3 linked regions of the Homo sapiens genome follow. The protein of the gene in region 1 interacts with the protein of each later gene in a pairwise test. Each region holds a gene or a part of one and is shown in the gene's direction. Other genes may lie near its edges. The genes, in order: SYT17, CCDC33 and NINL.

What was found.
Region 2: the proteins of SYT17 (region 1) and CCDC33 interact in a two-hybrid assay, tested with the Homo sapiens proteins (one large-scale study listed by BioGRID).
Region 3: the proteins of SYT17 (region 1) and NINL interact in a two-hybrid assay, tested with the Homo sapiens proteins (one large-scale study listed by BioGRID and IntAct).

Annotation. Positions count from the first base shown.
Region 1 is NC_000016.10:19,174,607-19,178,255, forward strand, and holds part of SYT17 (synaptotagmin-17), read left to right. Parts: intron 1-3,649. UniProt on the Homo sapiens protein: Plays a role in dendrite formation by melanocytes.
Region 2 is NC_000015.10:74,277,793-74,281,441, forward strand, and holds part of CCDC33 (coiled-coil domain-containing protein 33), read left to right. Parts: intron 1-1,326; exon of another isoform or gene 1,327-1,500; intron 1,501-2,170; coding exon 2,171-2,300; intron 2,301-2,875; coding exon 2,876-3,009; intron 3,010-3,649.
Region 3 is NC_000020.11:25,474,032-25,477,680, reverse strand, and holds part of NINL (ninein-like protein), read left to right. Parts: intron 1-591; coding exon 592-1,638; intron 1,639-3,649. UniProt on the Homo sapiens protein: Involved in the microtubule organization in interphase cells. Overexpression induces the fragmentation of the Golgi, and causes lysosomes to disperse toward the cell periphery; it also interferes with mitotic spindle assembly.

The DNA of each region.
Region 1 (3,649 bases):
AAATGGTTCTGTATCCAGGCTCTGTGGTCTCAACTACTATTTCGAGTTCTGTGACCTTGGGCAAGTGGTTTGATCTCTGTGTGCCTTGATTTCCCATCTGTGAAATGGGATGATAAAAAGAATAGTATTTCTCTCAGAGTTGTCGAAGGGAGTCAATGAATTTGGAATGTGGAAAAGTAGTTAGGAATGCTTGATACTTTGTTGGTGATCATACATGTAAGTAACTCTGGCTGGGCGCAGTGGCTCATGCCTGTAATCCCAGCATTTTGGGAGGCTGAGGGCAGGCGGATCACTTGAGCTCAGGATTTCGAGACCAGCCTGGGCCACATAGTGAGACCCCCCCCATGCCCCATCTCGACAAAACATCAAAAAATTAGCCGGATGTGGTGATGTGTGCCTGTGGCCCCAGCTACTCTGGAGGCTGAGGTGGGAGGATCGCTTGAGCCTAGGAGGTTGAGGCTACAGTGAGCTGTGATTGCGCCACTGCACTCCAGCCTGGGAAAGAATGAGACCCTGTCTCAAAAATAAATACATAAATAAATAAATGAGATATGCATATAATATGCTTAGCACAGAGCAAAAGTTTTATAAGCATTTATTTCTGTCAGTATTAGGTTTCAATAGAGATTAATTAAACTGATACAAACACAATGTTAAAGAACTCTTCCATTATTCATTATTCATAAGTTGTGGCCTGAATCCTACAGGTGTGTGTAGAGTTGAGATTTTTGGTGAAAGCAACTCATTAATCAAGAGATAATTCACAGCCGGGTGCCGTGGCTCTCATCTGTAATCCCAGTGCTTTGGGAGACTGAGGTGGGAGGACTGCTTGAGGTCAGGAGTTTAAGACCAGCCTGGGCAACACGATGAGACCCCTATCTCTACAAAAATTTAAAAAATTAGCTGGGCACGTTGGTGCCTAGAGTTCCAGTTCTTCGGGAGGCTGAGTTGGAAGGATCGTTTGAGCCTGGAAAGTCAGGGCTGCAGTGAGCTATAATCACGCCACTGCAGTCCAGCTTGCGCAACAGAGCAAGACTTCAAAAAAAAAAAAAAAAAAAAAAGGATTCTACTGGTCTATGTAGCAGAAGTTAGTTCAGTCCATCTGATGTCCTTAAAGCTATGCTCACAAGAATGCTATCTCCATGTGGGCAGGGAGTTTTGCCTGCCTTGTTCACTCAGAAAAAGTTGTTGACTGACAGACTATCCTGCAGGCAGAACTTGCATCCTGAAAGTGCCAATCATCAGTTGAAAAGTTAATCTCAGTTCCTTTTGTAGTTATTTCTTAAGTACAGTGTGCCAGGCGCTGTGGTATACACAGGGCTAGATAGGGTCCTGTGACCATGCTCAGGGAATTTTCAGTCTCACGTAGGAGGTAAGGCAGGTATGTAAGTCAGGTTGCCCCCTAGAGTTGTGCATTTACACCCTGCATTCCATATATGACAGTCCTGCATAAGACCTTGTTATGAAAGAATCAGGAATGATGGCTTCAGGCATAGCTGGATCCAGGAGCAGAAATCATGTCATCAGAGCCTTTCTCTCTCTCTCTTTCTTTCTCTGTTTCTTCTGTATTGGCCTCATTGTTAAGCTTGTTTTCTCCATGTGGCAGCACTAGACTTGCATTCTGTTGCGGTTGCATAAAAAACGAACAAACAAACAAAACAAAACCAGGAAAGACTCTTATTAGCCTGGCTCGGGTTATGTACCAATCACTTTCACTTGGAGGAAATGGTGCTAGAATCATGCCAGTTACCTGCCCACCCAGGAAACCAGGGAGATGGTCATTTCCACCAGAAACACAGGAACTGAACTATTAGACCAGGGGTTGGCAAACTTTTAAAGGACCAAATAATAAATATATTAGCCTCATGGGCCATATGGTCTCTGTTGCAGCTACTTATTTCTACCATTGTTATGCAGAAGCAGCTGTAGACAGTAAATGAACGGGCACGTCTGTGTTTCATTAACACTTCATTTACAAAATCAGGCAGTGAATTTGGCTTTGTAGTTTGCAGACCCCTGTAATAGACAATTGGGGTATTGTGACTAGAGGGGAGGAAATTGACTAGAGAGGTGGGCAGACATCACCCCTTGTAGAGATAGGCGTCTCATTGTGTTGCCCAGGCTGGTCTTAAACTCCTGACCTCAAGCAGTCCTCCCACCTCAGCCTCCCAAAGCACTGGGATTACAGGTGAGAGCCGCGGCAACCGGCTGTGAATTATCGCTTGATTAATGAGTTGCTTTCACCAAAAATCTCAACTCCACACACACCTGTAGGATTCAGGCCACAACTACATCTAGGAAGAGCTGGGGGAGCCTGCAAGCTTAGGCTGAGTTGGGTCTTGAATGCCAGAGTAAGGAATCTGGATTTTCTTCGATACCAGCGGAGACCCCTCACAGGTGTTGAGTATCACAGCCAGGTACCTGTTTGCCCCCTAGATATCCAAATGTTGAGTGTTACAGATGCACAGCCTAGGTTCTCATGTTGAGCTGGAGGACAGTTGCGTTTTGCCTTGACTGCTGCTAACCCTTTGTGTAAGCAGGGGCAAGGGGGCTGGGACCCTCTGGGAAGATACTTCTTTTGGTTTTGCCACTAGTAGAGAAGTGGACTGGAACTTTCCCAGCAGGGCCAATACACCACAAAATTCCAGGTGGCGCCATTCACATGGTGGCCATTATGAATGGCACCACCTAGGGTTGTGCAGTCTACAGACTGAACAGCTGTGCGTGACCTTTGTGCTTCCCAGGATGAATGAGGTCTCTTCTGAACACTGGGCAGTGCTTAATACAGTTTTGACACTCAGCATAATGCAAAACGGTAAGAGAAATCTGTAAAGGGAAGATGGCTAAATCATTCAGAAAGTAAATTTACAGCTTTGTGTTTTCCCCAGATTTATTTACCAAGTGGGCAGCTGCATGTTATCAAACAGACAGGAAGTAGAAATGTCAAGTGTATGGGCTTTGCAGTGCTGTTCCTACTGCGACATTTGAGCCAAGAACCATGGGACTTGCCTCTGTGGACTGGCATGTGGCAGATGAGCTGGCCCTTTGTGTGTGCTCTGCGTGTGATCTTGGGGATACATTAATTGTCACATATGCTCATGTCCTGTGGGCCCCCAACTTTTCTTGGCTGGGCTGGGCTGGTGAAGATTAGGAAAACTGCACAATCTGACTGGTGCTTTTTGAAGCAATGCCAGAAAGACCCTCATTGAAGAGTGAATTAAAGTCAAGTTGGTTGATTGTTTGTCGAACAAGCACATATTGAATGCCTACAATGTGCAGAGCTCTTACAGCCCTCTCAGAGATGCCCCACTTGGCGATTGGGAGTGTGTGCCATTTAGAGTTTAGCATTACTGGCTTAGCTGGGGTTCTGCCTTTTAACAGTGGTGCAAATTAGTTATTCATCCTTCTCCCAACCTGTATTAGTTTGTTTTCTGTTGTGATAAAGGGATACCCAAGACTGGGTAAGGTTCAAGTGATTCTCCTTTTTTTTTTTTTGAGACGGAGTCTAGCTCTGTCGCCCAGGCTGGAGTGCAGTGGTGCAATCTCGCTCACTGCAAGCTCTGCCTCCCGGGTTCATGCCATTCTCTTGCCTCAGCCTCCCGAGTAGCTGGGACTACAGGCGTCCGCCACCACGCCCGGCTAATTTTTT
Region 2 (3,649 bases), on another chromosome or scaffold:
GGCAGCCACTCACCACCTCTGGCTTCATAGGCTCCATTTAGACACATGAATAGGTCCCAGAAAGGGCAGCTAGCGTCTACTAAATAACCCTCTTCCAGGGTAGGAGCAAGGTATGGACGGCAGGGGACTGAGTCACAGGTGCCCCAATGCCTGGCAGACAGTCCCAGCCATGTGGACCCTCCTGCACCCAGGAGAATGGGGTGACTCTGGGAGGGACATGGTTTGGGGATCAATCTTGAAAGATCACTCCCAAGCCCCACAGAAGTCAGAACCAACTTCTCTCACCGGACCTGTTGGCCAAGCTCCCATAAGAAGTGGGATGTTCCCATCATTGCAGTCTCTGTTCAGGTGTCCAGGGCACCCTAGCCCTGCAGTGACTGCAACCCATCTCCCCAGGGGCAGGGGCAGACACAGCTGAGCCTTGGGCTGGGCCTGGACAAACCAGGCCCATTAGTGTGACCGTCATCAGCACCCTGCCACTGTGGGGAAGTGGACCTACACTGATATTTCATGATCCTGCATCAATAACTCCTGGAGCCGCAGTGCATTTGTGCTGACCTTTTCGAGCAATGACTGATTCCTGTGGGGGAGCAGGAGGTGGGAGCGGCTGCTACTGTTGCTGACAGCCCCTGGCTGGGGAACAGAGGCAAGGCAGCCACTTGGTGGGTCTGTAGCAACGACCCGCAGCCCCGCCCTGTGCTGGGACCCTGCAGGGCTGCCTGCTGGGAGTTATGGGCCGATGGCCATCTCCCATCTCCCACCTTCTGGCCTTGGCAGATGCTGGGCCTCCCCCTGGAGTCTCTCCTCATTTCAGGCGTCCTCTGCACAGGGTGTGCTCAGTGCCACTCCACATTTTTGATTGTGCTGTTTTCCCATCCTGAAGACCTTTATCCCTCTCTTCACCCAGCCAGACCTTCCTTCAGAGCCTTTCTCTGGTTCTGCTTCCTTTAAGGAGGCTTTTCTGACCACCCATGGGAATATTTCATATAGCTCTCTTATTGGGCAGTGCTACAGTTAATACTGTCTTGTTTCATTGTTTAAATCATACCCATGTGTGTGCCCTAACTGCTGACCTAGGGTGCCATCAAGTCCCCCGAGTGCCCACTGGCCCACACTGCGGGCACACGGAGCCTCTGTAGTCTGCAGAGATGTCTTGGCCTCTGCAAGGGGCTGGGGAAACTGTGTGGGAAAGAGAGGGGCTGGTGACACAGACAGAGGTCATGTCTAACTTGGCATCTGTGACACCACCAGCCATGGGTGTGAACACAGATACAACACTTTAGGAAAACAGTTTACCAATAATGAATGAGGTGTCCTAAAATACACATGTCCTATAACCCAGCAATTCCATTTTAGGTAGTTGTACTAAGGAAGTAATTTGCGACATGAAGATATGTAGCAGAGAACGTTCAATGCAGTGTTATTACAGGGAAAAATGGGAAGGAAGAAATCAGGGCACTTGGACATGAACTTCATATCCTGAAGTTACTCAAGTCATGGGTAATGAGCTTTCTGTGACTTTGGATCTGCTTAGGTTTTACTGGCAAATGAAAAATGCAGGATGCTAGAATGGTGATTATACACAAAATATACACAGAAAAAAACTAGGAAGAAGCACAGTTTTATGAATTATTGTGTTTATCATAGGAACACAGGAGCTGTTTTTCTTCTTCCTATTTTTCTGCATTTTCCTAAATGTATTTATTAGGTGTGTGCTGCATTTATTTGTTTATTTATTTATTTATTTATTTTATTTATTTAGAGACGGAGTTTCGCTCTGTCACCCAGGCTGGAGTACAGTGGCGCAATCTCATCTCAGGGCAACCTCTGCCCCCCCGGGTTCAAGCAGTTCTCCTGCCTCAGCCTCCTGGGTAGCTGGGATTACAGGAGTCCCCCACCACACCTAGCTAATTTTTGTATTTTTAGTAGAGACAGGGTTTTGCCATGTTGGCCAGGCTGGTCTTGAACTCCTGACCTCAAGTGATCCACTTGCCTTGGCCTCCCGAAGTGCTGGAATTACAGGCGTGAGCCACTGTGCCCAGCCAGCTTGCTTTTATAGTTGGGAGAAACATTTGTGACAAATCTAGATACACAAAACCAAATATCTGTGTATGCCTTGATTTGGGAGAAGCTGTGGCCCCCACCACCTGCTCCTACCCTCTCCCTCCAGCTGTCCAAGCCTGGGGGACCCCCAGAGCAGCCCCTGTGGAATCAGTCCTTCCTCTTCCAAGGCCGAGATGGAGCTACCAGCTTCTCAGAAGACACAGCCCTGGTGCTGGAGTACTACTCCTCAACTTCAAGTACGTGACCCCTGGTGCCTCGCCAGGGCAGCCATGCCTCAGGAGATCTGTATTATGAAAGGGTGTTCAGACCATCCCACCTCTGCCTCCCACAGGGATGGATGGTTCCCAGGTGTCCAGGCGGCTTCCTAATGCAGGCAGAGGAGAGCTGGCTGCGTTCCTTGTCCACAGGCCAGGACACGTGGGCCTGTCCCATACTAGGTCTTGGCCCCAAGCTTTGTTTTATTGCACCCATCAGTGATGGGGGAGGGCTGGAGCCCTCGGAACTCACAGAGAGGGGTGAGGGAGATGGGCTTCAGAGACCAGCTGATCCACAGTTTTCTGCACTGTGGGATTGAAGCCCCCAAAGGGTAGAGATGAGGCTGATGTATATAAATTCCCAGACACACAGAGTATGTTTAGAGTTGGCTTTGAGTTCACAAAGCCCTGAAGATGAGAAGAGGATGTATGTGCAGGGAAAGGCCAGGAGGCAGGAAAGCAGGCAGCGGGAGACAGGAGGACTGGATGTCAGGTATTAAAGGATGGGGCCGAGGTGGGGGCTTTGGCAGGAGCCCTAGTTGATCCTTCCCCCACAGTGAAAGGCAGCCAGCCGTGGACCCTCAACCAGCCCCTGGGCATCTCTGTGTTGCCGCTAAAGAGCCGTTTGTACCAGAAGATGCTGACAGGGAAAGGCTTGGACGGGCTTCACGTGGAGCGGCTCCCCATCATGGTGAGCCCCCTGCCCTGAACTGGGCCCCTAGCGTGCCCACCTGGCCCCACCCTGCCTCACCCTGCCCCACCTCACCACACCTCCATAGGAGAATTTGGCTTCTCCAGAAGCTTCTGTCAAGGCACCCACCAGGGAAGTCACCCAGTCTAGAAGTGAGGAGCTCCCTGGAACCCCAGAAGCCAGTCTTGCCTCTGGGACTATGACGAACCAAGCCAGAGAAATTGCCCCTGAGCAACTTGGGAGACAAGTACAGGGTGACCCTGTGAGACAGTGCAAGAGTTCAGGCTTTCAGCCAGCCAGACCCTGATTTGAACCACAGTTCAAATCCTCACTGTGGAAATTCAGGCACATTACTGAACCACAAGAGTCCTCGTCTGTAACACAGGAGAAGCATGCCAAGTACACAATCTCTGTGTATAACAAGAGAGTTCAGAGCTCAGGCTCTAGAGCCAGACTGTCTGGGTCCAAATTCTGGTTCCACCACATACCAGCTAACATGACCATGGGAAAACTACTGAAAGTGTCAATGCCTCAGTTTCCTTGCCTATAAAATGGGTACATGGCAATAGCACTTTTTTCATAGGGTTGCTGTGAGATTTCATGAGAAAACCCATGGAAAGCACTTAGAGTAAGTTCTCAA
Region 3 (3,649 bases), on another chromosome or scaffold:
TTGGAGGTGGAGGCCCTCCAACCACTTCCTTGCTCCCCTTGCCCTGGCCAGGCATGGACCACATACCCCTTCTGGTGCTGTGGTCTTGCCAGCTCTCACTTCACTTCCACTGGACTCTCCTGCGGGCCACCAGAGGTCCCAAGGCCCAGCAGCTTCAGGGAATTAGGGGACAGTTTTGGCTCTGGGTCTCCAGCGCTATCGTGTAGAACCCACTGCAGTGTGGGCCACGTCGTATGTCTGCCCTGTCCAGTTGGGAGCCTTGAGGGCTTGGAACGTGGCCTGCACGGCCGAGGGGCTGCAACCAGGTCCTGCATGGTGGCGGCCATCTTCCATGTGAACACTCCACATGGAAAGGGTTCGTGCTTGGGCTTCCATGTGCAGAACCTCGCTCCGTGGGGCGGATCCTCGTCTGGACTCTGAAGTAGGGCCCAGGGTATAGGTTGAAGCCAGGGCTGAGGGAGGCGAGGAGGGATAAAGAAAGCCAACCACAGAGAGGAGGTCGCAGCCGTTGCAACAGCTGGGCAGACTTCAAACCCGAGAGAGGGGCTGGGGGCGGCAGGGCTGTGGTGTGTGACGGTTCTACTTCCACAGGAGAGAGGCTGAGGCGGAGCTGAGTGGAGAGCTGTCGGGGCTGGGAGCCCTGCCCGCTCGCAGAGACCTGACCTTGGAGCTGGAGGAGCCGCCGCAGGGACCCCTGCCACGCGGGAGCCAGAGGTCGGAGCAGCTGGAGCTGGAGAGGGCACTGAAGCTGCAGCCCTGTGCGAGCGAGAAGCGCGCCCAGATGTGCGTATCGTTGGCCCTCGAGGAGGAGGAGTTGGAGCTTGCCCGCGGGAAGCGAGTGGACGGGCCCTCCCTGGAAGCAGAGATGCAGGCCCTGCCGAAAGATGGGCTGGTGGCAGGAAGTGGCCAGGAGGGCACACGTGGCCTCCTACCACTGCGTCCGGGCTGTGGGGAGCGGCCACTGGCCTGGCTGGCCCCAGGTGATGGCAGAGAGTCTGAGGAGGCGGCAGGAGCCGGGCCTCGCCGCAGGCAAGCCCAGGACACAGAAGCTACGCAGAGCCCGGCCCCCGCCCCTGCCCCGGCATCCCACGGCCCCTCAGAGAGGTGGTCACGCATGCAGCCCTGTGGAGTGGATGGGGATATTGTCCCAAAGGAGCCAGAGCCTTTCGGCGCGAGCGCAGCGGGGCTGGAGCAGCCTGGAGCCCGGGAGCTGCCTCTGCTGGGAACAGAGAGAGACGCCTCGCAAACCCAGCCACGGATGTGGGAGCCACCCCTGAGGCCGGCCGCTTCGTGCAGGGGACAGGCTGAGAGGCTACAGGCCATTCAGGAAGAGCGAGCACGAAGCTGGAGCAGGGGCACCCAGGAGCAGGCCTCGGAGCAGCAGGCCCGGGCCGAGGGCGCCCTGGAGCCTGGGTGTCACAAGCACAGTGTGGAGGTTGCCAGGAGAGGGTCCTTGCCATCCCACCTCCAGCTCGCAGACCCGCAGGGTTCCTGGCAGGAGCAGCTTGCTGCCCCAGAAGAGGGGGAGACCAAAATAGCGCTGGAGAGAGAGAAGGATGACATGGAAACCAAACTTCTACATCTGGAAGACGTCGTCCGGGCTCTGGAGAAACATGTAGATTTGAGAGAGAACGACAGGTTTGCCTTCTACTCATTCTTAAAACTAAACACTTCAAACTAAAAATGCAGAACTAACCCACTGACCCCTGTTGCTAATGGTGCTATGTGGCCCTTCCTGCCGACAAGCTCGCAGCCCCTGATGGGGGCTGTGTAGCCCTTCAGCCTGAGTAGGGGTTGTGAGCCCAGCCCCGTCCCGGAATGCCACGGTCATCTGGTGCTCTACCACTGGGCAGAGGGAGGGCAGGACTGCCTTTCGGGGTCCTGAACCCACCTTCCGGGTTCAAGATATTCTTGTGCATCAGCCTCCCAAGTAGCTGGGATTACAGGCACCTGCCACCACGCCTGACTAATTTTTGTATTTTTAGTAGAGACGGGGTTTCACCATGTTAGCCAGGCTGTCCTCAAAGGTGATCTGCCCGCCTTGGCCTCACAAAGTGCTGGGATTACAGGCGTGAGCCACTGCGCCCGGCCCTCGCTTCCAAAGATTTTTCATTGTTGTTCCCAGAAGAGGCTGTATACCCATTAAACAATAACTTTTGCTAGTATTTTGTTGAGGATTTTAGCATCAATTTTTGCATCATAAGGGATTGGTCTGCAGTTTTCTTTTCTGGACTGTAGTGTCCTTGTCTGGCTTTGGTATCAAGTAATGCCTCATAGAATGAGTTTGGAAGTGTTCCCTTCTCTTCAATTCTTGGAAGAGTTTGAGAAGAGGTGGTGGAAGTTCTTTTTTAAGTGGTAGAATTCACCAGTGAAGCCATCAGCTCCTGGGCTTTGTTAGGAGGTTTTTTTGTTTTTTGTTTTTTGTTTTTTTTGAGACAGAGTCTCGCTGTGTGGCCCAGGCTGGAGTGCAGTGGTGCTGTCTGGGCTCACTGCAACCTCTGCCTCCCAGGTTCAAGCGATTCTCCTGCCTCAGCCTCCTGAGTAGCTGGGATTACAGGCGTGCACCACCAGGAATCAGGAATTTAAAACCTCGTAACAACTAGGGCACGGTGGTTCATGCCTGTAATCTCAGCACTTTGGGAGGCCAAGGTGGGTGGATCACCTGAGGTCAGGAGTTCAAGACCAGCCTGGCCAGCGTGGTGAAACCCCATCTCTACTAAAAATACAAAAATTAGTGTGGTGGCGTGCGCCTGTAATCCCAGCTACTCGGGAGGCTAAGGCAGGAGAATCGCTTGAACCCAGGAGGTGGAAGTTGCAGTGAGTTTTGAGATCGCGCCACTGCACTTCAGCCTGGGCAACAAGAGCGAAACTCTGTCTCCAAAAAAAAAAAATACAAAAATTAGCCGGGCATGGTGGCATGCGCTTGTAGTCCCAGCTACTTGGGAGGCTGAGGCAGGAGAATCGCTTGAACCTGAGAGGCAGAGGTTTCAGTGAGCCGAGATCACACCACTCACTGCACTCCAGCCTGGGTGACAGAGCAAGATTCCATCTCAAAAAAAAAAAAAGTTCCTTTAGTGAAACTCTGTTTAGAGTAAATTTCCTGTTTTTGCTTATCTGAAAAGTATCTTAAATGTTCCTTCATTTTTGTAAGACAGTATTCTTAGGAACGCACATCTAGCCATTAAATGGCCGCCTCTCCACCCTTGGAATGTCTGCTGTCCGTGTCAGAGACCCGGTTGCTGACACTGCATGGTTGGCCCTTGGTCCGTCTGTTCTTCCTTCGTGTGCATTTCCACGGACTTGGTGGCTTAACAAGGCACAAAAGTGCGATGTTTTAGTTTTAGAGGTTGGAAGAGGAAAGGGTCTCCTTGGGCTAGGAATGAGGTGCTGGCAGGGCTGCAGGGCCATCCAGAGGCCCCGAGGGGAGCTCCCTGCCTCACCTTCTCCAGTGGCCTTGACTTGAGGCGTCCTTCCATCCTGGAAGCCAGCCCTGGATGGCCGAGTCCTCCTCATGTCACCTTACTCCAACACTGACTCTTCTGCCTCCACTTTCTACCTCTAAGGACACTTGTGATTACGTTGGGTTCCTCTGGAGAATCCAGAATAATCTACAGTCAGAGAACGAGCAGCCTTCATTCCCCCTGCTGTG